Linked DNA regions of Homo sapiens. The protein of the gene in region 7 interacts with the protein of the main gene of each other region in a biochemical or structural test. Each region holds a gene or a part of one and is shown on either strand. Other genes may lie near its edges. The genes, in order: HMGN3, EIF3M, ARGLU1, ABCF1, TAF1B, OCEL1 and SRPK1.

Region 1 (3,500 bases), about 43 Mb from region 7:
CCTGAAAAGGGTCCAAACATGTTAGCCATTACTCAAAACTGCCTCCCTATCTGCCATCTAGTTGTCTTGAATAAAATCTCCATGAAGTGAGGCAAAATCATGTGAAAAGTTCCCCAGCTGCGACAATGTTGTTCCTCTCCATGTGAAGACCTGAACATACCAAATAGACTAAGTGATGCCAGAGAGCTCTTTGGGATTTCCAGAGACATTCCAATCTAAGCACTGCTCTACTGGGACTAACAGCTGTTCTGATCCAAAGGACTTAATACCTTTTAAAAATTCAGGTCCAGTACAGGAGTTCCAAAATAAAAAGCCTCGGAAATTAATGCAAAAAAAAAAAAAAAAAAAAAATGCCTAAGCTGTCTAAACCAGCCAGTACCTAAAAATCCTATCTTCTATTATAAAATCATTTTATGACTTGCTACATACAATTTCCCAGCTCTTCTTTCTATGCCATTAAAAAAGACTTTTCTTACATTTTCTTTTCCAGTAGCTATCATAAGAGATTTTCGTTTTCACTGCAAACAGTGGAGGCTGAGATGAACCTTTCACTCAGTCAGCAGTACTGATTATGCATACAAGTATGGACACCTTCCTGGAAAGTTCTATCAGCTTTCACAGCCTTAAAATCTGTAAATTATTGGACTATATTTATTGGATATGAAATAGATTAGACTGCTATTTTTTCCTTTTTAAAACACTAACATGTGAAGTACTCATTTGAGACTCAGATTGTTGGGTGGGACTACGAGGGGAAAAAAAAGCTATTAAGAATTTCTCTTGTTTTTTTTTTTTTTTTTTTAATTGTGAATCCTCAGGAAAAGTGGTCCAGAGACTGCTCCTCAGCACTTCTCTGACATTCGCTATTTCCCTTCCTTGCTTTGTTTTCCTTAATTGCCAATATCCAATTATTTTACTAGCTCTCAGGGAGGGAAGGAGGGCTTTTAGAATGAAAAGTCATCATTGATAAATATGACAAACAGATACGACAAATGTGAGGGTTTGCCACTATGGTATATAGGTGCTGGTCACAGTGGAATTATCCCATAGGCATCATCCCATAGGCATGATCATCCTTTAGGTTGGAGAAAATTCTGGTGAAGCCTATTCTGAAAGACATGAAATCTTCTACTTTAATATCCTGGTTGCAAAAGCAACATAGAAGTCTAATCTCCCAATGACAAAGTACACAGGGATAGCTAGATTCAATAGAATCACTGCACTTTGCTGGATACTGCTTGAAACACATGGACTATTCCTCTGGAATGTGGGAGTATTTTTATTTTTATGAGATGTTGTTGCTCCTGAGCCTGACCATGTACCTCCAAGCAAAACCCAAAAGTCAAGTTGCTTTTAATTCTAAAAAAAAAAAAAAATGCCTAAAAAGAAATTGCCTTTTTTTCAAAACTGGGAAGTAGAAAAGTTTGTACCTCAGAGCCTTGGCTGGGAATAGACAAGACAGAAAAATGGATACTGGATTACCAGATTTTTAGGACTGTCATAAAAGGGCCATAGGGATAGCGGATTTTGGAACAGGAGATGCAGATATCTTTCCTGGTTCTGCTATTTACAAGTTCTAACACCCAGGGAAAATCATGTTTCTCTGAGAACTTTGCTCTAGTTAAAATAGGGATAACATCTGTCAATCTGTCCTCAAAAATAGCACTTCTCTGACATTCACTATTCTCCTTCCTTACTTTGTTTTTCTTCATAGCTAATATTCAATCATTTTATTTTACTCTCTCTCCCACTAAAAGGAAGCTCCATGAAAGCAGCGATTTTTGCTTCTTTTGTTCACTGTGGGATCTGGAGAGCTTAGAACAGTGCTTGGCGCATTATAGGTGCTTATATGTTTTCGTTGAGGAATAATCTGCCTTCCTCTCATTTTAGAGTTACTATATGGACCAGACAAAATAATGGATGTAAAAGGGTTTGTAACTGTTGATTGTAATGACTATAATGTATTATTTTGGTTATTTACTGTCCAAGTCCCCTGAAGTACTATCTTCTGCACAATGCCTTCTAATATGGCAGTGGAAGAGGATTTTCAAAAGAGAATCCCCCTTAGTAACTGTTATCTATTCACTAAAGTCAAGGTGGTGCATACTCAATGACATAACTGGAAAATTCAGTCAATCCAGTGGGAAAGAAAAAAAATCAATCAATCAATACACTGACAGTTTTTACCCGAAACCATCAGCAAACTAACTGACCTTTTCACTTTTTAAATAACTGTGTTGATGTCCTGAAGACATTATCATGAGTTTTAATCTGGCCTTGGCTTAAATGACAGGTAGAGCCTTATCTAGAAACCATTTTTATTAACAACCAAAAATACATAAAATATATAGAAATAATATAAAATAAAATATAAAAATAACAATTAAAAATAAAAACATAATAAAAAAATTAGCCAGGTGTGCTAGCATGCACCTACAGTCCCAGCCACTTGGAGGCTGAGATGGGAGAATCACTTGAGCCAGGGAGATCGAGACTGCAGTGAGCTATGATCTTGCCACCTCACCCACTCCAGCCTGGATGACAGAGTGAGATGCTATCTCAAAAAATAAAATAAAATAAAATAAAATAATATGTATAAGACAGCTGTACAAGCAAAACCACACACATATCCTTTATATATACATTCTCACAAGCTTGATTTACTTTTGGTGTAGTGGGATTGGAAAGACAATCAAAGATTACTGGGTGCCATGGTGTTTCTAGGTTTTTTGACTGACAAATCAATTTAAATGCCAGTCCCTAAGGAAAAACCCAAATGCTTTTGTTTTGGTGTCCAAATCTTAAAAACATTTAAGGTTAGTTATACTTAGCCAACTGTTCTAAAAATCACATTTTGCCATTTCCCAAGAAAATTCAAGCATTTATCATTTTTTGGTTGGTTCTTGCATGTGTGTGATGACTCTGTTTTGGATAACAAACTTCATGATTATTCCAAACTCTGTCAAACAGTGAATGCTAGGTACATGGATGATGGGGACAGACTGTTTTGTTTTGCTTTTAAATTATTTCTTTATAGGTTCTGTTTAAGATTTTCCACTTGGCAGAATGAATTTCCTTGTACAAATCTTGTGCAGGGGTTTTGGTATCACGATAAACTCCTCTGAATTATTAACCACATTATGAATCACCCAATCAAAGAACCTGTAACTAGATATTGTTTTTGTCTCACCCATGACCCCTTTTAGTTGATAAGTTCAAGGGTAACAGCTGCAGTTTTCCACCTATTCTAAAGCCCTGTGCAAACGGAATGGTTGTCATCAAAGTTATATCTCTTTTCCTACTGTTTAGCCCATCTTTTTTTAGAGGTTCATAATAATAACTGTGGATGGTCAAATCCAAGAATCTCTTCCAAGTTTCTAGACTTTTGGAGGTTTCTGAATTTTAAAACAAAACATCTTTGAATCATTGCCTAATTAATTATCCCAATATCCTGAGTGTTCCCAATTTAAAAAAAAGCTTTAATATTTTGACATATTGTG
Region 2 (3,500 bases), on a different chromosome or scaffold from region 7:
TTACTGCTATTCATTCATTTAAAATATTTTTAAGAGGCAGGTACTGTGCTGATGACATTATAACGGTGACTAAGAGAGACAAAGTCCCTGTCTATGGGAAAAGTCATAAAACCTTCCTTTTAGTAGGAAAGATGGACAACTAAGGAAAAGTAACTAATAAGTGCTATGAAGGAAATAAATGGTGATTTAATCAAAGCAACAAGGGCAGAAAACGGAAAGGCCGCTTTATGTACAGTGGGAAAGCAGTCTCCCTCAGAAGAGATGGCAAGTAAGCTGAGACCAAAATGATGTAAAATATCCTTTTCTTGGCCATGAAAAGAGCTGGGTTCATGAAAGGTGGGGTAAGATGACTTTCCAAGCAGAGGGAAAACCAAGTATAAAGGCCCTAGGCGCAAAAAAAGTTTTGTGTCCCAGAAACTGTTAGGACAGTATGGCTGAAGTTGAGACAATACCAAATATTTAAATAACTCTACTTAAGATACCCTTCCAATTAAATTATTCTTACAGTTATATACATCAGTTTCACTGGAGTAAATAGGGCAAAATAAATAAATGCAGTCATTCAAACTGGACTTTTAGAAAATGTTTATCTTTACTCCTCATGACTTCTTTAAACTGTGGAATCTTCAGCTTATAGAAAGCTTTGCTAACTAGGAGGAAGAGGTTTTTCTTTTCCTTTTTTCATTTTCTAAAAATACTTACTCCCCACATCTGAGTTTAGCCTGGGCAAAATCAGCAGGAACTGTATCATTTATTTTAAAATGGTAAATGCTATCTAAAACTTCTTTCAAAACTAAGGTTTACTAAGATTCAGAAATACCACTGTAGGCATGGCTAAGTGGTAACCCGCATCTTAAATGTAGTGATATAAATGCCTAGGCACAGTGGCGCATGCCAATAGTCCCACCTACTAAGGAGGCTTGCTTGAGCCCAGGAATTCAAGGCTGTAATGCACTACAATTGCACCTGTGAACAGCCAAATACCCACTGTACTCCAGTGTGGGCAACATGGTCAGACCCTGTCTCTAAAAATAAAAAATTAATACTGAACTCAACCTGGAAGAGGCCATGATCCAAAGGAGCCAGAGCAGCTAAAAAAAACTGTTTATTGGTGGTCTGAGCTTTGAAACTAGAGATGGTAGTTTTAGAGAACATTTTAAGAAATGGAGCACACTCACAGGTTGTGTGGTAATCAGAGACCCCCAAACAAAATGTTCCACAAACTCTGGTTTTGTGACTTACTCTTGTGTTGAAGAGGTGGATGCAGCAATGTGTGCTCAACCACACAAGGCTGAGGAGTGCAATGGAACCAAAGACAGCTGTTTCTAGAGAGAGTTCTGTAAAGCCCAGTGCCCATCCAACAGTGAAGAAAATTTTTGTTGGTGATGTTAAAGAAGATACAGAAGAACATAATTTGAGAGACTACTTTGAAAAGTATCGCAAGATTGAAACCACAGAAGTTACAGGAGGACTGGCAGAGTGGAAAAAAGAGAGGATTTGCTTTTGTAACTTTTGATGATCATGATAAAATTGTGGTTCAGAAATAACACTCTATTAACAGGCGTTAGTGAAGTGAAAAGGGCCCTTTTTAAACAACAGATGCAGTTGTGGAGTGGATCTAGCAACTTTATGGGTTGTGGAGGAAACTTTGGAGATGGTAGTTTTGGCCATGGGTAGAAACTCTGGTGGAAGAGGAGGATATGGTGCTGGGGTGGTGGCAGCAGAAGTAGTTATGGAGGAGGGGTTGCTGGATATAATGGATTTGAAGGTGATGGTGGCAACTACCGCAGTTGTCCTGGTTTTGATAGTAGAGGCGGGTATGGTGGTGGTAGATATGGTGGCAGCAGTGGAGGATATGATGGTTACAATGAAGAAGGTAATTTGGGGAGTGGTAATTACGGTGGTGGTGGGAACTATAATGATTTTGGATATTACAGTGGACAATGACAACCAAATTATGGACCCATGCATGAAAGGGGGCAGTTTTGGTGGATAAAGCTTGGGCAGTCTCTATGGTGGTAAATATGGTAGCACAAGGTTCTAAAAACAGCAGAAAAGGGCTACAGTTTTTGGCAGGAGTGCAAGCAAGGAGAAGTCAGAAAAGCTGCAAGTTACTTTGAGGCAATCATCCAAATGCATTAGAGGAACTGTAAAAATCTGCCACAGAGGAATGATGATCCACAGTCAGAAAAGTTACTGCAGCTTAAACAGGAAAGCCTTCTTGTTCAGGACTGTCATAGCTACAGGTTGCAAAAAGTGCACTATTGATTAATGCAGTGTAGTGTCAATTAGATGTACATTCCTGAGGTCTTTTATCTGTTGTACCTTTGCCTTTTTCTTTTCATTACATCAGGCATGTTACCCTGTAAATTATGGTAGTGTAGTGGTACCAGGAATAAAAAACTAAGGAATTTTTAACTTTGCAATAAAAATTAAAATTAAAAAGTATAATGACTTAACTATAAAAATTCAAAGAAAAACTTTTAAAAAACCACATCTTACTCATTAGTTATCTTGTGCCACACTGTAAGCACAGGTGCAAGTCATTTTCCAGTTTTAGCAACTACAGTATACTTCAACCTTCTCAGCTAAAGAAATCTTTTTAATCCACTTGAAGCACACAGCATGGTGTCTGACATGTAAGGGCTTAGTTACCAGTAACACCCTTTAAAATGCACAACAGGCCTGGTGCGGTGGCTCACGCCTGTAATCCCAGCACTTTGGGAGGCGGAGGCGGGAGGATCACAGGGTCAGGAGATCAAGACCATCCTGACTAACACGGTGAAATTCTGTCTCTACTAAAAATACAAAAAATTAGCCGGGCGTGGCGGCGGCAACTGTGGTCCCAGCTGCTCAGGAGGCTGAGGCAGGAGAATGGCATGAACCCGGGAGGTGGAGCTCGCAGTGAGCTGAGATTGCGCCACTGCACTCCAGCCTGGGCGACAGAGCAAGACTCCATCTCAAATAAAAAAAAAAAAGCACAACAAACACCATGTGCATCAACCACCAATATAAATAAAGTCATGAAGGGGGCACCCATAAACTTGAAGCATTTTTACTTAACTGCTAGGTAAAATCTCAGAATTTTACTGATTAAAATATGTATTTTATGTGTTCTAAAGAAGAAAACCAACTCTCAACATTTAGATTGGCAGAATGTCAGAAATGTCGTGTTTAAACAAGTATCCCCTTCCAGTTCCCTACTGTGGGTAGCATTTATCCACTCAGTGCCCAATAAGTGCTATCTTCTTGGGAATGCAATGGTTTACAGATGAGGTTCCTTGCCTTCACTTAGCCTACAACCTTACTTTCAACTAAGGGTGTTAAATGCTAGGATACAAGTAGAGGGTGCTGTAAAAGGGAGGCACTAACCGAAATATGAGAGGGGTGTTTCTGGCAGAGACATGAAGCTGACTATAGTAAGACTACTTAGACAAGGGGTAGGCAAACGTTCTATAAAGGGCCAGAGAGTAAATATTTTAAGCTTTGCAAGCTATATG
Region 3 (3,500 bases), on a different chromosome or scaffold from region 7:
TAACAATTTTTTTTTTACACGGACACAACCCTCTGACAGTCTTTCCAAATATTAAAATCATTTGAATATGTATGCTGTGATCTGAACACTGCTCAAGCCATCAAGCAGTCTTCATACAGTTTGCATTATAAAATCTCATTAAATTCTCCAAGAAAAAATAAGTTGAAGAATTTTATTTCCTGACCATGCATCCCCTGGATTTCTGAGTTTCAGTTCAGATTGTAGATGACAATATAAGCTGCCTTCCGAAATTGTCAACATCTGAATGTTAAGTCCATTTTCCCCATGGAAGAAGCCCGTAGTTCCATGAAGTATGGATTACCATTTGTATTTTTCACTAACAGTAAATGTATTTTTCTTATTAATTGTTTGCCTTAGGAATGATGAATTACATTTTTTGTTCCTTCTTACCATAAACATCTGCATTCCTCAGCTCAGCCTTCCTTGTATGTTGTTTCTTTATAAATGGTTGAGCTGCTGATGCAGGTATTGCCAAGCTAACAGTACAAATCATTTTAAAGAGGAAGCTGGCGCGTATGGCAGCCGAGGAGCACACTCTGCAGGACACTGGACAAGACAGTAAATATTCAACTTTTAATGCTGATTAAAGGAGTATAGGTAAAGAATACGTAGGTATACATAATTGGTGAGACAAATATTCACTTTATTTATATTTTATATATTATTTTTTTAATTTGGTAAATACTATCCAGTTTTGTAGTTGTCCTTGTTGATTTGTGTGATATTAAAGTATTAGTAATAATTGCCAGGAAACTATCATTAGGGAGGGTTTAGTTGGTTGCTGTTTGGACTGGGAGGGATGATTTAAATTTAGTGCTAGAAACCAATTTTAGTGACTGCACAGTTTATCATTTGTCAGACAGAAGGTAGCTATAAAGCTACCCTGTAAGTCATATCAAAAAAGTTCAGAGGAAGATTAGTAAATATTTATCAATAAAAATAAACATTTTGTTTTTCTAATATCTTAACATATCCTCCCCTTTAGGAGGAAGAACGTGCAAAACGTGAGGAGCTAGAGCGAATACTGGAAGAGAATAACCGAAAAATTGCAGAAGCACAAGCCAAACTGGTAAGTGTAAAGCATACATGAAAAGTGTTTTGTATTTTGCTTTATTTCCTTTTTTCGGATTTTGTGGATTGATTTTTGTGCCCTATAATTTGACTTATTTTGGGGGGATTCTCAGGACTAACTTTAAAGGCTTTTTGAGGCAAGGATAGGAACAATTGAGATTTTTCCTTCCAATCTGGACAGAACTCCAAAATTTGCAGTGATTTTAAAAAACAAGTTTTCTGGGGAAATTATTTTGTTCTCTATCCCCAGTTTTTTCTTTCCTAACCTCATTCACATTCTCCTATGCCTAAAAAACTAATAGCAACAACAAAAGCTTGGGGGTATATTTAAACCAACTATAATATGCAGCATTTTACTTTGTATTAGTTGGCTTGTTACCAGGAGTAGATAGTATTTATTTGATAGTAAGTGCACCGGAGTAATTTCCTATTCCTAGTTTATAATCTTAAGAAATACAGAGTCTTCGGTAATTATATAATATAGAAAGATGGGGGTGGGGGAAAGCAAGTTGTAAGCTCCAGTTACATGGTATAAAGAAATTTTGTGGTTATAAATGTACAGAAAAATATCCAAGTGGGTCTGAGTAGTTAACAGTGGATCCCATTGAGAGTAGGGATGAAGGAAGACCATAAATAACCTTAATAAGAATGTAAAAAGTTAATACGGGGCAGTTGTTTCTGGAACATCATCTTCTGAAAAATAGAGTACTCTGGATAAGAGATAATGCTAGAAATATTCCAGATAACTTAGTGAGCATGGCACAATGGATTCTTGGTAAATATCACCTGGTATTTGTGAAGGCCATAATGGAATCTATTGGAAAGCCATAATCCGCTTTCCCGAAGAAAATCTTAAAATCTGCTAAGGCAGAAAAAGCAATAGGAATGTGAAATGGATGAGTCATTCTAAGTTATATTGCTGCATGCTTATGAATAAGTATGTGATAACTTTTTTTTTTAGTTATTCTGGGATTCCATATAAGGAGAGAACCTCAGTGCAGATAGGAAGAAGAGGGAAAGTGTTCAATCTGAATTTGAGGTTAGAAGGTTGAGCTTTGAAGGGTAAATACACTCTGGTTTGTGAGGCATGGATGTTTCAGAAAAGAAGAAAAAAATATGGTTGACAGTTAAATCACTGAAGCAAAATTACTGAGCAGGTGGAACTGGACCTCCCATTAGGACATGTTAAAGAGATTGGATAGCTGTGGTGGGTTCATTATGTGGGTGGCCTGGAAGCTTGGTGTGCCCAGCCAAGATCTTGATCCCTTCTGACCCTGTGGTAGCTAGGGACGGCTTGGCCTCCTTGCATTCTTACAGTCCTCTATTATTTGCCCACATGAAAAATAAAAAATATGACTTTCGGTGTGTGATCACTGGAAAAAATATTGGTAGTCATAACCTAATACTTCTCAAATGGTAGTAAAAGTTCTGTTTTTGTTTTTTAATCCCAGTTTGTCTCAGACCTCTACTTTCGCAAAATACAATTAAGATGAATTACTAGAAAAATGAGGTCATATTGCTGTAAAAACTTCTAAAACCCTTAATATTGATTTGTCCTTGTTGGGGATTGATTAGTTTGTAGATTATAAGTGGTCTGTGGGCCATGCTTTACATTAGCACTTTTCTAGATCATACAGATTTAGATTTGATCAGAGTGACACTATTCTTGCTTTGTTTTGTTTTTGAGACGGAGTTTTGCTCTTGTTGCCCAGGCTGAAGTGCAATGGCGCAGTCTCGGGTCATTGCAGCCTCCACCTCCTGGGTGGGTTCAGGCTATTCTCCTGCCTCAGCCTCCCGAGTAGCTGAGATTACAGGCACCCACCACCATGCCCGGCTAATTTTTCTGTTTTAGTAGAGATGGGGTTTTACCATGTTGATCAGGCTGGTCTCGAACTCCTGACCTCAGGTGATCCACCCGCCTTGGCTTCCCAAAGTGCTGGGATTACAGGTGTGAGCCACCGCTCCTGGCCCAGAGTGACACTATTCTGATGGCATGCTTGTGATAAACTTCAGTAAAAAACATATCTTAGGGAAAAAGAGGCTTGGATTTGAGAAAGTTGAGTAAGAATTTGAACATATTTAACATGTTTGCTTATAGTGTTCAATAAAGTTGGGAGCGTAGTAAATTGATACTGGAGAAATTTTTTTTTTTTTTCTTTTTTTGATGGAATCTCGCTGTGTTGCCTAGGCTGGAGTGCAGTGGCGGAGTCTCGGCTCACTGCAACTTCCGCCTTCCAGATTCAAGCAATCCTCCTGCCTCAGCCTCCTGAGTAGCTGGGACTACAGGTGCCCACCACCACACCTGGCTAATTTTTGTGTTTTTAGTAGAGACGGGGTTTCAGTATGTTGGCCAGGCTGGTCTCAAACTCTTGACCTTGTGATCCACCCGCACCGTCCTCCCAAAGTGC
Region 4 (4,165 bases), 5.3 Mb from region 7:
GATGGCTTGAGCCTGCGATTGAGGCTGCAGTGAGCTGAGATCGCGCCACTGCACTCCAGCCTGGAGTGAGGCTCCGTCACAAAAAAAAAAAACCCACCAAAACCAAAAAAATCTTTTGTACTTTAATCACTCTTATCCACTTCATTATAGGGACAGGAAAAGCCTCCGAAGAGTTTCATTGTGAGAAAGTATAATCCCCAAGGAACTGAAAAAGATTAAGTGTGGCTAGAGATATACTGTGTCTTCTCTCCTTTCGTATATCGCTTAAGCTGCTCCTTCAAGGCAAGAAAGCAAGCCTTCTTTACCCTTATACCCCTCTCCCCCATTACTGTTTCGTATTCTTGTCCTCATTGGGTCTCAAAATCGTAATTCACAAGCTTCACTTTCTCTTCTCCCATACCTTTGAAACATACTGCAATCTGGTATCATCTCCGAATGAACACTACTTCTGCCAAAGTTGCCACTGAACCCTTAGCTCCTCAAACCACAAAGTATTTTTTGGTCCTTATTTTGCCTGACTTCTCTGCAGCATTCCATGCTGCCTACCTCCACACCTTTTTTATTCTCTTCTATCATTATTTAATTTCTGGGATCTTGCTCACTCCTGGTTTGCCTCCAGTTTCTCTGGCTGTTTGCCTTTCTCAGTCTCATCTCTTCAGCCTCCTTCCCCACCTGCTTCCTGCAATTGCTGAAGTTCTTTAGGGTTCCCACCTTTAACCTTCTTTTTGGTTCAATCTGCAAACACTCTCTAGGGGACTCTTCCATATCCAGCACTTCAACTCTACTTGCCTGTGTCTTTACTCCTAGTATAGTTGTCTCTCCACAGTGACTAAACAAACTCTCTTCTTGCCATTTCCTTTTAGAAATCCTCAGAAACGCCTAACTCAGCATTCAGAAGTTCACCTTATCTCTTTCCACTTCTTACTCTCCTGTCCATTACTGCTTTCAGTTAATAGTCTACTAGTCACTGGGTTACTTAAGTGTCAACCTTACTTCTCCCTTCATTTAATCAGTTCTCAGTTCCGATCAATGCCGCCTCCTTAGTAACTCTTTATTCTTCAGGCCTTGGCTTATCCCCTTACCACTTCTCACCTAGATCATGGCCAGAGCCCCCTAAATGGTCTCCCCGCCTCCATCTTGACCAGTTCAAGGCCATTCATTCTCCATTGCTCAGTGCTACAGGTGAACTGTTCATAATCATTCCTTATGCACTTCAATGGGCCTTCCTTCTTAATGTCTTTAGGATTAAACTCCTCGGAATGGCATCTAAAGCCTTTCATTATCTGTCTCCTGAGCATCTTTCTGACTTCATCACACTAGTCACCAGGCTCTAGTGGGACCAGTCAGGCTTGCCTACATCTCTACCTTCCACAAACTTCCTTGGCTTGGAATGCGCTTCCCCTTGCTAATTCACGATGATCTTTCAAGAATAAACTCTGGGGAGCAGATGTAGTGGCTCACGCCTGTAATCCCAGCACTTTTGGAGGCTGAGGCAGGAGAATTACTTGAGCCCAGGAGTTTGAGACCAGCCTAGGCAACATAGCCAGATCTTGTGTCTACAAAAAATTTTAAAAATAAGGTGTGGTGGTGCATGCCAGTAGTCTCAACTACTTGGGAGACTGAGGCAGGAAGATCCTTTAAACCCAGGAGGTGGAGGCTGCAGTGAGCCATGTTCATGCCACTGCACTCCAGCCTGGGTGATGGAGCTACAATGTGCCTCAAAAAAAAATACTCAGCTATTACATATTCTTGGGAGGCTTTGCTGACACTCCCTTACCTGTCTGAGTAGATGCTCCTCCTCTCTTCTACAGTCCCATAACATTCTTAAGCACCTTCATCATACTCTGACAACCACTGTCTGTCTGGTTAATGCTCTGACCCTTCACCATACTGGGTTGTCCCTTGAGGGAAAGTCTTATCTTTTATCTCTACATTCCCACTTCCTCCACACAGTACCTGGTATACAGTAGGCATCCAATAAGTGCTTTTAAAATTAGTTACTGTGTACCTACTGGGGTTAGTTGTGTCCATTTATGTCCCCCTTAAAACTGACTTCAACCCTGGGAGGATATCTTCATGTTTTTTTCCTTCCCCTCTCAAAGCACAGTATATAGAGTGCTTAATTAAAAACAAGCGCTTAACAAACTTTCGCTGCTTTTTAAGTAAACCTTAACCCTCATTCCAACATCAAAAATCTACACTCTTGCTCCAGTTGAGTGAGAGGGGTGTCTTAAGAAAGAAACCATGAAGGAGTCACCCTCTCTTGAGAAACAAGGGGGATCACAGGCTCCCAAGGTGTGTGTATGCGCGCGCAGGGGGAAGGGGAGGTCGAGGCAGGGCTCATATATTCCTGGTGGAATACAGTGTATGGTGGGGCGGATGTCCAAATTTTTTAAGCAAGGTTTTCCCATTTCTCCCCATCTCTCCCTCGGTGCCATATGCTCTTTCTTTTATCTCGCCCAGTCTCACTTAGGTCACGTGCGACATCTGGATCTCTTTCCTTTAACCCCGATTCCAAACCCACTCCTCCCCGGCAAACTCCTCCCGGGCCCACGGCACGCATGCGCAGTAACTCCCGCAGGGGCCCGGTCAGTCTCGTGCCCCATGACCCTCTCTTAAAACACGCGCAGTCTCCTCTCTCTTCCCCCTCTGCTCGTTTCTTCCTTGCCTACCAGCCTCACCTGATGGGCTCGTGCTCTCTCCGTCCCCGATCCACTCGGGCTCCGGCGGCTGCTGCTTGGGCGCCTTCGGCATCGCGGTGGCAGTTACAGCTACTGTGGCGGCGCCCGGTGCTATTTCCGCTTCCGGCGGCGGGGAACCCCGATGGGGCTGGCTCTCCAAGCTGGCGCGGCCAACCCCGCCCCCGGGCTGCGCACGTGCGAGCTTCGCCGTCATCTCGGGGGCGTGGCCCTGGTTCAGTGGAGGCGTGGCCTGCAATGACGGAGCGGGGCCGGCGTCCGCTTGCTCCAGTCGCGTAAACACATGGCGTTTACGACTGTCTGGGAAGCCTGACGCCGTGACCTCCCGACGCCGCGAGACTCAAGGAATGAACATAATAATTTCCTACTAGTATGAAGGAGTTGAGGCATACTGTTTTTTTGTTTGTTTTGTTTTTTGTTTTTTTAAAAAGCATATTCTAGTTTCTATCTGTAACTCGTTTCTAGTTCTGCCACCGCGATGCCGAAGGCGCCCAAGCAGCAGCTGCCGGAGCCCGAGTGGATCGGGGACGGAGAGAACACGAGCCCATCAGGTGAGGCTGGTAGGCAAGGAAGACACGAGAGGAAGGGGAAGAGAGAGGAGACTGCGCGTGTTTTAGGAGAGGGTCATGGGGCGCGAGACTGACTGGGTCATGGGCAGAAAAGACAGTGCAGACCAATGGCTAAGGGAGAGGTCTGATCGGTCCAGTGTTGAAATGTGTCACAAAATCCCGAAGTGTACAATTGTAAACAGGGAACTGGAGCCCAACATGCAGAAGTCACGGTGCAGTGGAGCTTCGGTTCATTTATTTTTTTTGGTAACAGCTTTACTGAGATATAATTGACATACAATAAACTGTACACAAAATAAAATGGCACCCAAAATAAACTGCAAAGTATCACTTAAATAAGTTTTGACCTGCATAAACCCAGTAAACTATCACCACAATCAAGACTTTGGTTCACTTCTAACTCTACCACTTAATATGGGAGCTTGAGCAAGGTGCTCCTGTAGTTCTGTCAGCTCTCAAACCACTACAATCATGCTTTTGTTGCCACCATTGTCTGAATTCACACTTGCCAAAGTCAACAGATCTGGGGCCATCCTACTCACTCTCCCATCAATGTTTGATAGACTTGGTCGCTCCCTCCCTCCTTTGTTTTCTTCAGGGACACTACTCTCTATAGGTTTCCTTTGCATCTAATGGGCTTCTCCTGAAGTCTAAATGTTGAAGTGCCTCAGGGCTAAATCTTTGACACTCTCCTTAATCTAGACTTATCACCTATCACCTCCTGACTTTAAATACCATCTATAACCAATGAAGATTCCCAAACTTCTCTTGCTGGCCCCCAACTTCTGCCCCGAGCTCCAGGCTCATGAATTCAACTGCTTATGGGACATCTTCTCTGAGATCTTTAATAAATCTCTCTCATACGTACAAAATGGAGCTCTTGTTCTTACTCCTAAA
Region 5 (2,222 bases), on a different chromosome or scaffold from region 7:
TGTATTTCTTGAGTATAAGTGAGGTCGAGTATCCTATGATGTTTTTTGGCTTGGCCTTCAGAAAACTAATTTTTCTTTTCTTTTTTTTTTTTTTGAGACAGAGTCTTGCACTGTCACCCAGGCTGCAGTGCAGTGGCGCAATCTCGGCTCACTGCAAGCTCCGCCTCCTAGGTTAACGCCATTCTCCTGCCTCAGCCTCCTGAGTAGCTGGGACTACAGGCGCCCGCCACCATGCCCGGCTAATTTTTTGTATTTTTAGTAGAGACGGGGTTTCACCATGTTAGCTAGGATGGTCTCGATCTCCTGACCTCGTGATCCGCCCACCTCGGCCTCCCAAAGTGCTGGGATTACAGGTGTGAGCCACCGCGCCCGGCCTCAGAAAACTAATTTTTCATATCCCTTACTCAGTTTGCTTTTTTCCTTTTGCTTTGCAAGAGCTATTGATACATTAAAGAAATTATTTCTTTGTCCACCATATGCTGCAAAAATTGACTTTGCCATTCCAAGATCATCAAAGCATTCATATTTGTTTTCTACTAATACTTTTATATTTTTACATATGAAAGATTATGTTTAGATCTTTGATCCATCTGGGATTTACTCTGGGGCATAAAGAATAATGAAGGGATCTAGTTTAAAAAATAAATTTAGCTTTAAAATACGATGAGTATACATTTCTGGATACAATTATACAATTTGCTATTGTTTTAACTTTCTCTTAGAATGTTCATACTCTGAAAAATAAAATCAAATGAAGCTCACCTGCTTTACAATATACATTTTTCTAAGCACACTTGATATATATGTAAATATGTGTCAGAGTCTATACATATATATGCAGTATTTTCCACAATTCTCTGGAATGTTATATTAAAATCTGATGTTATTATCACTATTAAAATATTTTTCCAGAAAGTTTCTATTTCATTTTCTCAATGTCGTCTCACTTTCTTGGATCTTGATTTCTTTCTTTTTACACTGTATTTTTTCTCAAAAAGTTTCTTCTCAACTAAGCTCACTTCTTCATGGAGAAGGGAAGTCTTTATTCTGAGCAGGAAGGAGAAGAGATTTAGTATAAACTGATAACTCAGAGAATAATTTGATTCTTCATAGGTTGTCACATGTGTACAATAGCTAGAAGGGAAAAAGAAAAAAGAATTTATCTTTAGATGGTAACCAAGAAATGCACACACTAACCCCTGAACATCCCCCCAAATAACTTAGCAAATATATATGGTTAGGCTTAAAACAGGACCCTGAGCTGGAAGGAAACTTAGAAGAATTTGTTAACTCCTTAACTGCACAAAGGAAAACATGTTCACACTGTCCATGGCCACCACACAAGGGCCACAGGTGGTGCTAAGAGCTGGTCCTTCAACTCTTTGCTCAAAGTTTCTTCACTCCAGATGGGCCACCACTCCACTTTCTTACCATGGTCAAGGCAAACAAAAGCACACAGGGAGAGATTCTGAACATATTTCTAAAACAAACTAAAGAAAACAAATAATTCCTGACTTCCACCCAAAATAAGACACTAGACTTTATAATGTAGCTTGCAATACTATATGTATTGTGAGAGAAGAGTTTACCAAGCAATTTCCATTATTTTAAAATAGGAAAGCCTTCCGTTACAAGATGGCTGAACAGGAACAGCTCTGGTCTGCAGCTCCCAGCATGATCAGAAGACGGGTGATTTCTGCATTTCCAGCTGAGGTACCTGGTTCATCTCACTGGGACTGGCTGCACAGTGGGTGCAGCCCACGGAGGGTGAGCCGAAGCAGGGCGGGGCATCACCTCACCTGGGAAGGGATTTCCCTTTCCTAGCCAAGGGAAGCCATGACAGACTGTACCTGGAAAATCGGGACACTCCCACCCAAATACTGCGCTTTTCCAATGGTCTTAGCAAACGGCACACCAGGAGATTATAACCTGAGCCTGGCTCAGCTGGTCCCTCGCCCACGGAGCCTTGCTCACTGCTAGTGCAGCAGTCTGAGATTGACCTGCGAGGCAGCAGCCTGGCAGGCGGAGGGGCGTCCACCATTGCTGAGGCTTGAGTAGGTAAACAAAGCGGTCAGGAAGCTCAAACCGGGCAGAGCCCACTGCAGCTCAGCAAGGCCTGCTGCCTCTGTAAACTACACCTCTGGGGGCAGCACACAGCTGAACAAAAGGCAGCAGAAACTTCTGCAGACTTAAACGTCCCTGTCTGACAGCTCTGAAGAAAG
Region 6 (4,148 bases), on a different chromosome or scaffold from region 7:
ACCCCTGGTAGGGGGAGCTGCAAGAGGAAAAGCTGAGAGATACCAAGAAATGCAAGGGACCTGCATCCCCATGCATCCCTCTGCCCATCTGCAGGGGCACTTAGAAGTACACGGAGCCCTCGCTGTCTCCTTGGTCATCGAATTTCTGGATCTGAGTCTTGAGATGCCTCAGTTTACCCTTCAGGTAGTGGCAGCGAGCCTGCTTGTCCAGGAAGCCAGGATCCTAGGCAGGGCGAGACCCGGAAGTCTTTGCAGCAGTCTGCCCTGTGGCCTTCAAGCTGCTTAACTCTCTGCCTTTCATTCTCCGAGCCTCAATTTTCTCTCCTTGAAACTGGGCACAGGCGACCGGGTGAGCCGGGCAAGGTGGCTCATGCCTGTAATCCCAGCAGTCTGGGAGGCCGAGGTGGGCGGATCACTTGAGGTCAGGAGTTCGAGACCAGCCTGGCCAACATGGTGAAACCCCATCTCTACTACAAATACAAAAATTTGCCAGGCACGGTGGTGGGCGCCTGTGATCCCAGCTGAGGCAGGAGAACCGCTTGAACCCGGGACGCTGAGGTTGCAGTGAGCTGAGATCATACCACTGCACTCCCGCCTGGGTGACAGAGCGAGATTCTGTCTCAAAAGAAAGAAAAAAAAAAGAAACTGGGCACAGGCACCCCAGCCTCACAGAAGTCTCAGGGGTGCAAGACCAAGCTGTGGGATGCAAGACTCACCATTCGCTTCATCTCAAACTCCCTCCAAACCCGGGCTGCAACTTGGGCCTCCTTCTGCAAGGGGAGGAGTAGAAAGGGGGTTTAGGGAGAGTTGAATTCAAGAAGGGATGAAGAAACTGAGGCTCAGACAGACTAAATGCCCATCTAGTGGGGACTTCAAGGGCTGACCTTAGCCATGTGTCACGGCGCCCAGCCAACCGAGAGGAGAAAGAGTCCTGGAAATCTGGACCCAGTGGGTGTCCCAGAGGCTTGGGTCGGGCCACTCAGAAGGGCTGCGGGGCAGGGCTTTCTCCCTAGTGCTGACCTGGCTTTGGGGTGGGGGCAGGGAGCTCAGCAGGGCCTCCAGCTGCCTGAGCTTTGCCTGTGCACACCCCACCTCGTGCTGGAGCTCCAAGAACTCTCCGTACTGGTCCTGGAACACTGCGACATAGCGGCTCCGTTCCCTCTCACTGCTCACTGGCGGGTACTTACTACCAGGTTGAAGAGGGTCAGAGTGTGAGTGTAAAGAACCCCACTCTTTCCCCCAGTCAGTGTAATTTGCTTTTCTTTGTCCATGCTGGGCCCCTACTAGAAACGTTCCTTTTCTCTCCCTCTTTTAATTTATTTATTATTATTTTTTGAGATAGAGTCTTGCTCTGTTGTCCAGGCTGGAGTGCAGTGTAGCGATCTCAGCTCACTGCAACCTCCACCTCCCGGGTTCAAGCAATTCTCCCACCTCAGCCTCTTCAGTAGCTGGGATTACAGGCATGCGCCACTATATCCAGCTAATTTTTGTGTTTTTAGTAGAGACGGGGTTTCACAATGTTGGCCGGGCTGGTCTCGAACTCCTGACCTCAGGTGATCCGCCTGCCTCAGCCTCCCAAAGTGCTGGGATTACAGGCATGAGCCACCGCGCCTCGCCTATTTATTTATTTATTTTCGGAGACGGGATCTCACTGTGTTGCCCAGGCTGGAGTGCAGTGGCTTATTCACAGGGACAATCCCACTACTGATCAGCAAGGGATCCTTTCCTTTCTACTCTTTGGTAAACTCTTATTCAACTATCAAAGCCCCAGCCTCAGTGCCCCTCTCCTGATCCCAGGCATGAAGAATCACATGGGGGACACTCACAGCTCATAGTCGGGCACTGGGTGGGGCCTAGGCTTATGCCCCTTAGGGATGGCTCCAATAGGCTTCTTGGCGCCCAGGAGGGCCTGGGAGAGCAACTCATCCTCAAACACAATCTTCTTGGTCTTTGCCTTGTGGGGTCCCGGCTGGGGCTGGCACGGAGGGCGGGGGGCGCTGGTTTTGAGGCCTCGGGGCGCCAGTCCCTGCAGCTGCCACAGGAATCGTGGTCTGGAGTTAAATCGGGGTGTCGGGAAACCGGAGTCCCTCAAACTGGAGGGGCTAAATCTTTTGCCTAGAGGCCCGGCCTGGGGACCCCCTCCCGGTCAGGCTCACCGGGGGCCCAGGCCCAGGCGGGTGAGTATGCAGGTGCCCCCGGGAGCCGCGAGTCTTTGGGGGCTCCCGGGTGGGCATCGGCCTCCGGGAGAAGCAGCTCAGGGGTTTCCGGGCTGATGGGCGGGTCCTGCGGGGGGCGTCGTGTCCCGCGCGCGGCGGGGGTGGTCTGCGGGCGGCCTGTGGGTGGACACGCGGAGAGGACACGCCTGACGACGCGCACGGAGAAAGGACGCGCGGGCAGCTCGGCCGAAGAGCGGCCAACTCTCACCCCGCGGGAGCAGAGTTCCCCAGAACGACCGCTATTTGCATAGACGCACGCGATTGGTCCGCAGCGACGTCCAGACCCCGCCCACGACTGCGCAACCCAAATAAGCGCTATGTAAATGAACTCTGACGTCGCCGCGCAGCCTGGGACCGGCTCGAGTTAACCCCCGCGCTGCCGGAGCCTCGACCTCCAGGGCGCGCAGAGCCCACAGACGACCGCGCCCGAGGAGCTCCTCGGGACCTCCGCCCCACCTGCAAGGCCGTCCGGCTCGCTACCGCCCCGGGTCACCTGTCCCAGCGTCTGGAGCTCCGAGCCTGGATCTGCTGTCGGAGAGGCACTTCCGTCCGGGTTGTGCATTTACTGCAGGATGGACCCGACTGGCGGGGTCGCTCAGCAGGGCTGGGGGCGGGGTCTGACGAAAGGGGGCTGGGCCTGACGGCCTGGGGGCGGGGCTGACCTGGCTGGGCGTGGCCACACACCTTCGAAACATGGTCGACTCCGACCTCGACCCTCAAGTTTGTCTGAAAAAACGGGATGGTTTTGCAAATTTAAACTTATTTATTTTTTTCAGCAATTATATGAAAAAAATTTTTTAACAAGAGTCTCACTTGCCCAGGCTGGAATGCAGTGGCGTGATCTCGGCTCACTGCAGCCTCCGCCTCCCGGGTTCAAGCGGTTCTCCTGCCTCCGGCTCCCGAGTAGCTGGGACTACATGCGCACACTTCCACGCCCAGCTAATTTTTTGCTGTTGTTGTTGTTTGTATTTTTAGTAGAGACGGGGTTTCGCCACATTGGCCAGGCTGGTCTCAAACTTCTGACGTCAAGTGATCCGTCCGCCTCGGCCTCCCAAAGTGCTGGGATTACAGGTGTGAGCCACCGCGCCCGCCCGGAGTTTCGTCATTTTAGCCAGGCTGGTCTTGAACAGCTTCCGGGACTCAAGCAATCCGCTTGCCTCGGCCTCCCAAAGTGCTGGGTTACAGGCGTGAGCCACCGCACCCGCCCCTTTCTTTCTTTTTCTTTTATTTCTTTTAAGGGCGAGCAGGTGGTGTTAGATGGCATCTTTACTGAACAGTACTGTTCCTGGCAGAGCAGAGCTAACTTATAGACAGTGTGCCCCAAATCGGCCTTTTATATATATATATATAGAGAGAGAGAGAGAGAGAGGCTGTGTTGCCCAGGCTGGAGGGCATGATCATGGCTCACTGTGGCCTCGACCTCCTTCCTAGCCTCAATTGATCCTTCCACCTCAGCCTCCCAAATAGCTGGAACCACAGGTGACACAACGCCTCCCTAATTTTTGTGTTTTTTGTAGAGACGGGATCTCGCCGCGTTGCTCAGGCTGGTCTTGAACTCCCGAGTTCCAGCAATCCACCCGCCTCAGCCTCCCACAGTGCTGGGATTACAGGTGTGATCCCATAATCGTGCTTGGCATTTTTTTTTTTTTTTTTTTTTTTTTTTTTTGAGAGGAAATGTCCTTATGGGTCCAGGCTGTTTTCCAACTCCTGGACTCAAGCGATCCTCCTGCCTCAGCCTCCTGTCTGGGATGTGTGTATTTTACATTTGGAACATACTGCCAAGTTACTCCTTAGTGAGATTGTACCATTTATGCTCCAAGAGATACAGGGGTTTTCCCACAACCTTGGCGGCACTGGCATGATAACGGATTCCCTCACCTGTACTTTCTTTTCTTTTTTTTTTTTTTTTGAGACGGAGTCTCGCTCTGTCTC
Region 7 (3,500 bases):
ACCTATCACCTAATATACTATTTAATTTACTTATTTATGTCTATTGTTTATTCTGTCTTTCCTCCCACTATAATAATATAGTAGCCAACGGGACAGGAATGTTTTTCTTTCACTGCTGAATCCCGAATATGGAAAACAATGCTTGGGACAGGGTGGGAGATCAAAAACTATTTGTTTAATGAATAAGAGTTAAACTAGTTAAATCCTTTTTTTTTTTTGAAACGGAACTTTGCTTTGTTGCCCAGGCTAGAGTGCAGTGGTACGATGTTGGCTCACTACAATCTCCACCTCCCGGGTTCAAGCGATTCTCCTGCCTCAGCCTCCTGTGTGGCTGGGATTACAGGCACCTGCCACCACACCTGGCTAATTTTTGTATTTCCAGAAGCAGGGTTTCACTGTATTGACCAGGCTGGTCTTGAACTCCTGACCTCAAGTGATCCCCCTGCCTCAGCCTCCCAAAGTGCCAGGATTACAGGCTTGAGCCACTGTGCCCGGCCAAACCTGTTAAATCTTGCTGGAGGAAGGCCGGGTATGGCGGCTTACATCTGTAATCCTGGCACTTTGGGAGGCTGAGGCGGGCAGAACGCGACGTCAGGAGATCGAGACCATCTCGGCTAACACAGTTAAACCTCGTCTCTACTAAAAATGCAAAAACAAAATTAGCCAGGCATGGTGGCGGGCGCCTGTAGTCCCGGCTACTCGGGAGGCTGAGGCAGGAGAATGGCATGAACCCGGGAGGGGGAGCTTGCAGTGAGCCGAGATCACGCCACTGCACTCCAGCCTGGACGACAGAGCAAGACACCGTCTCAAAAAAAAAAAAAAAAAAGAAAAATCTTGCTGGACAAAATTTTGACAAAATGAACTAAAAATATTTTAAATGTATATACCATTCGAAGTATTTATCCTAAGGAAATAATCACTGATGTAAGCAATGATTTGTCCAAAAGATTATTCACTATAGCTGTGAATTAATTGTGAAAAACTGGAAACAGCCCATAGTGGAATATTTAATACACGAAAAATACTCATGATAATGTTAACTAGGGAAAAGTATGCCCAGTGATTCCATTTTTGTCTTTAAAGGTATATACAGGCCAGGTGCGGTGGCTCACGCCTGTAAGCCTAGCACTTTGGGAGGCCGAGGTGGGCGGATCATGAGGTCAGGAGATGGAGACCATTCTGGCTAACACGGTGAAATCCCGTCTCTACTAAAAATACAAAAAATTAGTGGGGCGTGGTGGCACACACCTGTAGTCCCAGCTACTCTGGAGGCTGAGGCAGGAGAATCACTTGAACCCAGGAGGCGGAGGTTGCAGAGAGCCGAGATTGCACCACTGAACTCCAGCCTGGGCGACAGAACGAGACTCTGTCTCAAAAACAAAAAAAAAAAAAAATATATACACACACACACACACACACACACACACACACACACACACACACACGTTTATTAATAAAAATTAAAATAAATTATGGTTGGCTGGACACAGTGGTATGTGCCTGTAATCCCAGCTACTCGAGAAACTGAGACAGGAGAATCGCTTGAACCCAGGAGGCTGAGGTTGCAGTGAGCTGAGATCTCACCACTGCACTCCAGACTGGATGACAAGAGCGAAGACTCTGCCTCAAATAAATAAATAAATAAATTAATTAATTAATTAATTAAATTATGGCATATCAACTTAATGGAATGCTAGATGAGGTTCTCTTTCTGTCCTGACATGGAACTATTTCTAAGACTCAGTGAAAAAGGCAGACCCTAAAAAAAATAGTAAGGCTGCACTATATGGAATATAGAACCAATTTCCAAGGTGCACTGCTAAGTGTAAAAAGCATCAAATACTATTTCATTTTTTAAATTGTTTCAAATTTACTGGCTCTACTTCCTACTGAATAAAAATGTTAGATATTTAAGTATTTTCTCTTGTAAATTTTTTTTTTAATTTGTGGCCAAATTCAAGTAAATTTTCAATATATCTCCCAAATGACTCCACAAATCAGTGTTAGAGCTGAATTAATTTTACTACCAAATGTATACTAAATCCATAATTATTTAACTGCAAATAAAGTGAAAATTACTGTCCAAACCAGCTTCCTAAGGTAAGTAATAAAATCAGTAAGTATGAAATCCATTCTGGAATTATGTTCCATAGAAACAACTTCAAAAACAGACATATAGGTCAGGCACGGTAGCTCACACCTGTAATACCAGCACTATGAGAGGCCAAGGCAGGTGGATCACTCGAGGTCGAGTTTGAGACCAGCCTGGCCAACATGGTGAAACCCTGTCTCTACCCCGAAAAATACAAAAATTAGCCGGGCGTGGTGGCAGGTGCTTGTAATCTCAGCTACTTGGGAGGCTGAGGCAGGAGAATGGCTTGAGCCCGGGAGGCAGAGGTTGCAGTGAGCTGAGAATGCGCCACTGCACTCCAGCCCGGGTGACAGAGTGAGACTCTGTCTCAAAAAACAAAACAAAACAAAACAAAAACAGACACACACTGTTAAATTATAAAAGCTTATGACAAACAAATAAAGGCTCACAGCTATTGGTATAAACACTGAAAACAAATGTTCAGAGGGAGATAGATGATTGTGCTGTTTCATAGACACAGGACAGTATGTCATGAAAGGGCACCCAAACCCCCAAGCATCCAGAGGTCTCTCATTCAGAAGCCTCTTTCAACTCAGCTTCTACCTTACCTGTTGTAAGACACACCAAAAGCACTGTCACTTAGAAACACATGATTGGTAGCCAGGGCTTTGGGTATGTCAGACCTGGGTTCAAATCCCAGCTTTGCAATTTTCTAGGGGAGTAATCTGACAAACCTCAATTCTCTTATCTGTAAAGTAAAATGGAGATCATCACCAACTAGTTAATGTTAGTAAATAAAAGCACAGCGTCCACAAAAGTAAAATGAAGAATTGTCTAAATAAGAAAATTTAAAATCCCAAAGTCAAATACTCCAGCACAGTGAAAAGAACCCAAAGGAAATCCACTCTAACAAACACAGAGCTGGAAAGGGACCCTGAATTCCAAGTTTTGGTTCTTCTGTCACCAGCTTCAAGACCCTGGGTTTAAGATCTGCAGTACCAGGGGACTGAAAATCCCTTCTGCCTGTGACACAACACGACTAAATTACTAAGGATGCTATTTACTGTAACAGTTCCAAAACTTTCTAAAATTTTCATTTAAACGCTTTGTTTTTATATCTTTAGGTCCTGATCAGTTTTCACTATGACTGAACTGCCAGTCAGGATATATACATAAGACTGTTTCCTTAACTAACTTGTCTAAGGTCAGATTGCTAAAAAGTAGCAAAATCAGAATTCAAAACCACATCTATCTCCAAAGACCAAACTCTATGGCATGCTTCTTCCTCAAATCTTCTTCCTGACTCACCTCCTGTAACTAGCAGCTTGCCTTAGCAAAGTAAATGGAAGTCATCAGGAGTGCAGTCAGAAGTCATGGAACAGAGTCAAGTTACCTTAGTTGAGGCTTG

Evidence for each region.
Region 1: of the proteins of SRPK1 (region 7) and HMGN3, one has a biochemical effect on the other in vitro, tested with the Homo sapiens proteins (one large-scale study listed by BioGRID and IntAct).
Region 2: of the proteins of SRPK1 (region 7) and EIF3M, one has a biochemical effect on the other in vitro, tested with the Homo sapiens proteins (one large-scale study listed by BioGRID and IntAct).
Region 3: of the proteins of SRPK1 (region 7) and ARGLU1, one has a biochemical effect on the other in vitro, tested with the Homo sapiens proteins (one large-scale study listed by BioGRID and IntAct).
Region 4: of the proteins of SRPK1 (region 7) and ABCF1, one has a biochemical effect on the other in vitro, tested with the Homo sapiens proteins (one large-scale study listed by IntAct).
Region 5: of the proteins of SRPK1 (region 7) and TAF1B, one has a biochemical effect on the other in vitro, tested with the Homo sapiens proteins (one large-scale study listed by BioGRID and IntAct).
Region 6: of the proteins of SRPK1 (region 7) and OCEL1, one has a biochemical effect on the other in vitro, tested with the Homo sapiens proteins (one large-scale study listed by BioGRID and IntAct).

What each region holds. Positions count from the first base shown.
Region 1 is NC_000006.12:79,210,683-79,214,182, forward strand, and holds part of HMGN3 (high mobility group nucleosome-binding domain-containing protein 3), read right to left. Parts: intron 1-3,500. UniProt on the Homo sapiens protein: Binds to nucleosomes, regulating chromatin structure and consequently, chromatin-dependent processes such as transcription, DNA replication and DNA repair.
Region 2 is NC_000011.10:32,590,331-32,593,830, reverse strand, and holds part of EIF3M (eukaryotic translation initiation factor 3 subunit M), read right to left. Parts: intron 1-3,500. UniProt on the Homo sapiens protein: Component of the eukaryotic translation initiation factor 3 (eIF-3) complex, which is required for several steps in the initiation of protein synthesis.
Region 3 is NC_000013.11:106,554,638-106,558,137, reverse strand, and holds part of ARGLU1 (arginine and glutamate-rich protein 1), read left to right. Parts: intron 1-1,006; coding exon 1,007-1,090; intron 1,091-3,500. UniProt on the Homo sapiens protein: Dual function regulator of gene expression; regulator of transcription and modulator of alternative splicing. General coactivator of nuclear receptor-induced gene expression, including genes activated by the glucocorticoid receptor NR3C1.
Region 4 is NC_000006.12:30,570,077-30,574,241, reverse strand, and holds the start of ABCF1 (ATP-binding cassette sub-family F member 1), read right to left. Parts: upstream 2,801-4,165; 5' UTR 2,755-2,800; coding exon 2,682-2,754; intron 1-2,681. UniProt on the Homo sapiens protein: Isoform 2 is required for efficient Cap- and IRES-mediated mRNA translation initiation. Isoform 2 is not involved in the ribosome biogenesis.
Region 5 is NC_000002.12:9,932,695-9,934,916, reverse strand, and holds the end of TAF1B (TATA box-binding protein-associated factor RNA polymerase I subunit B), read right to left. Parts: intron 1,135-2,222; coding exon 933-1,134; 3' UTR 501-932; downstream 1-500. UniProt on the Homo sapiens protein: Component of RNA polymerase I core factor complex that acts as a GTF2B/TFIIB-like factor and plays a key role in multiple steps during transcription initiation such as pre-initiation complex (PIC) assembly and postpolymerase recruitment events in polymerase I (Pol I) transcription.
Region 6 is NC_000019.10:17,224,878-17,229,025, reverse strand, and holds the start of OCEL1 (occludin/ELL domain-containing protein 1), read right to left. Parts: upstream 2,801-4,148; 5' UTR 2,779-2,800; coding exon 2,710-2,778; coding exon of another isoform or gene 2,673-2,709; intron 2,334-2,672; coding exon 2,157-2,333; intron 2,052-2,156; coding exon of another isoform or gene 2,033-2,051; coding exon 1,827-2,032; intron 1,187-1,826; coding exon 1,021-1,186; intron 771-1,020; coding exon 717-770; exon of another isoform or gene 711-716; intron 224-710; coding exon 101-223; 3' UTR 18-100; coding exon of another isoform or gene 1-17.
Region 7 is NC_000006.12:35,914,599-35,918,098, forward strand, and holds part of SRPK1 (SRSF protein kinase 1), read right to left. Parts: intron 1-3,500. UniProt on the Homo sapiens protein: Serine/arginine-rich protein-specific kinase which specifically phosphorylates its substrates at serine residues located in regions rich in arginine/serine dipeptides, known as RS domains and is involved in the phosphorylation of SR splicing factors and the regulation of splicing.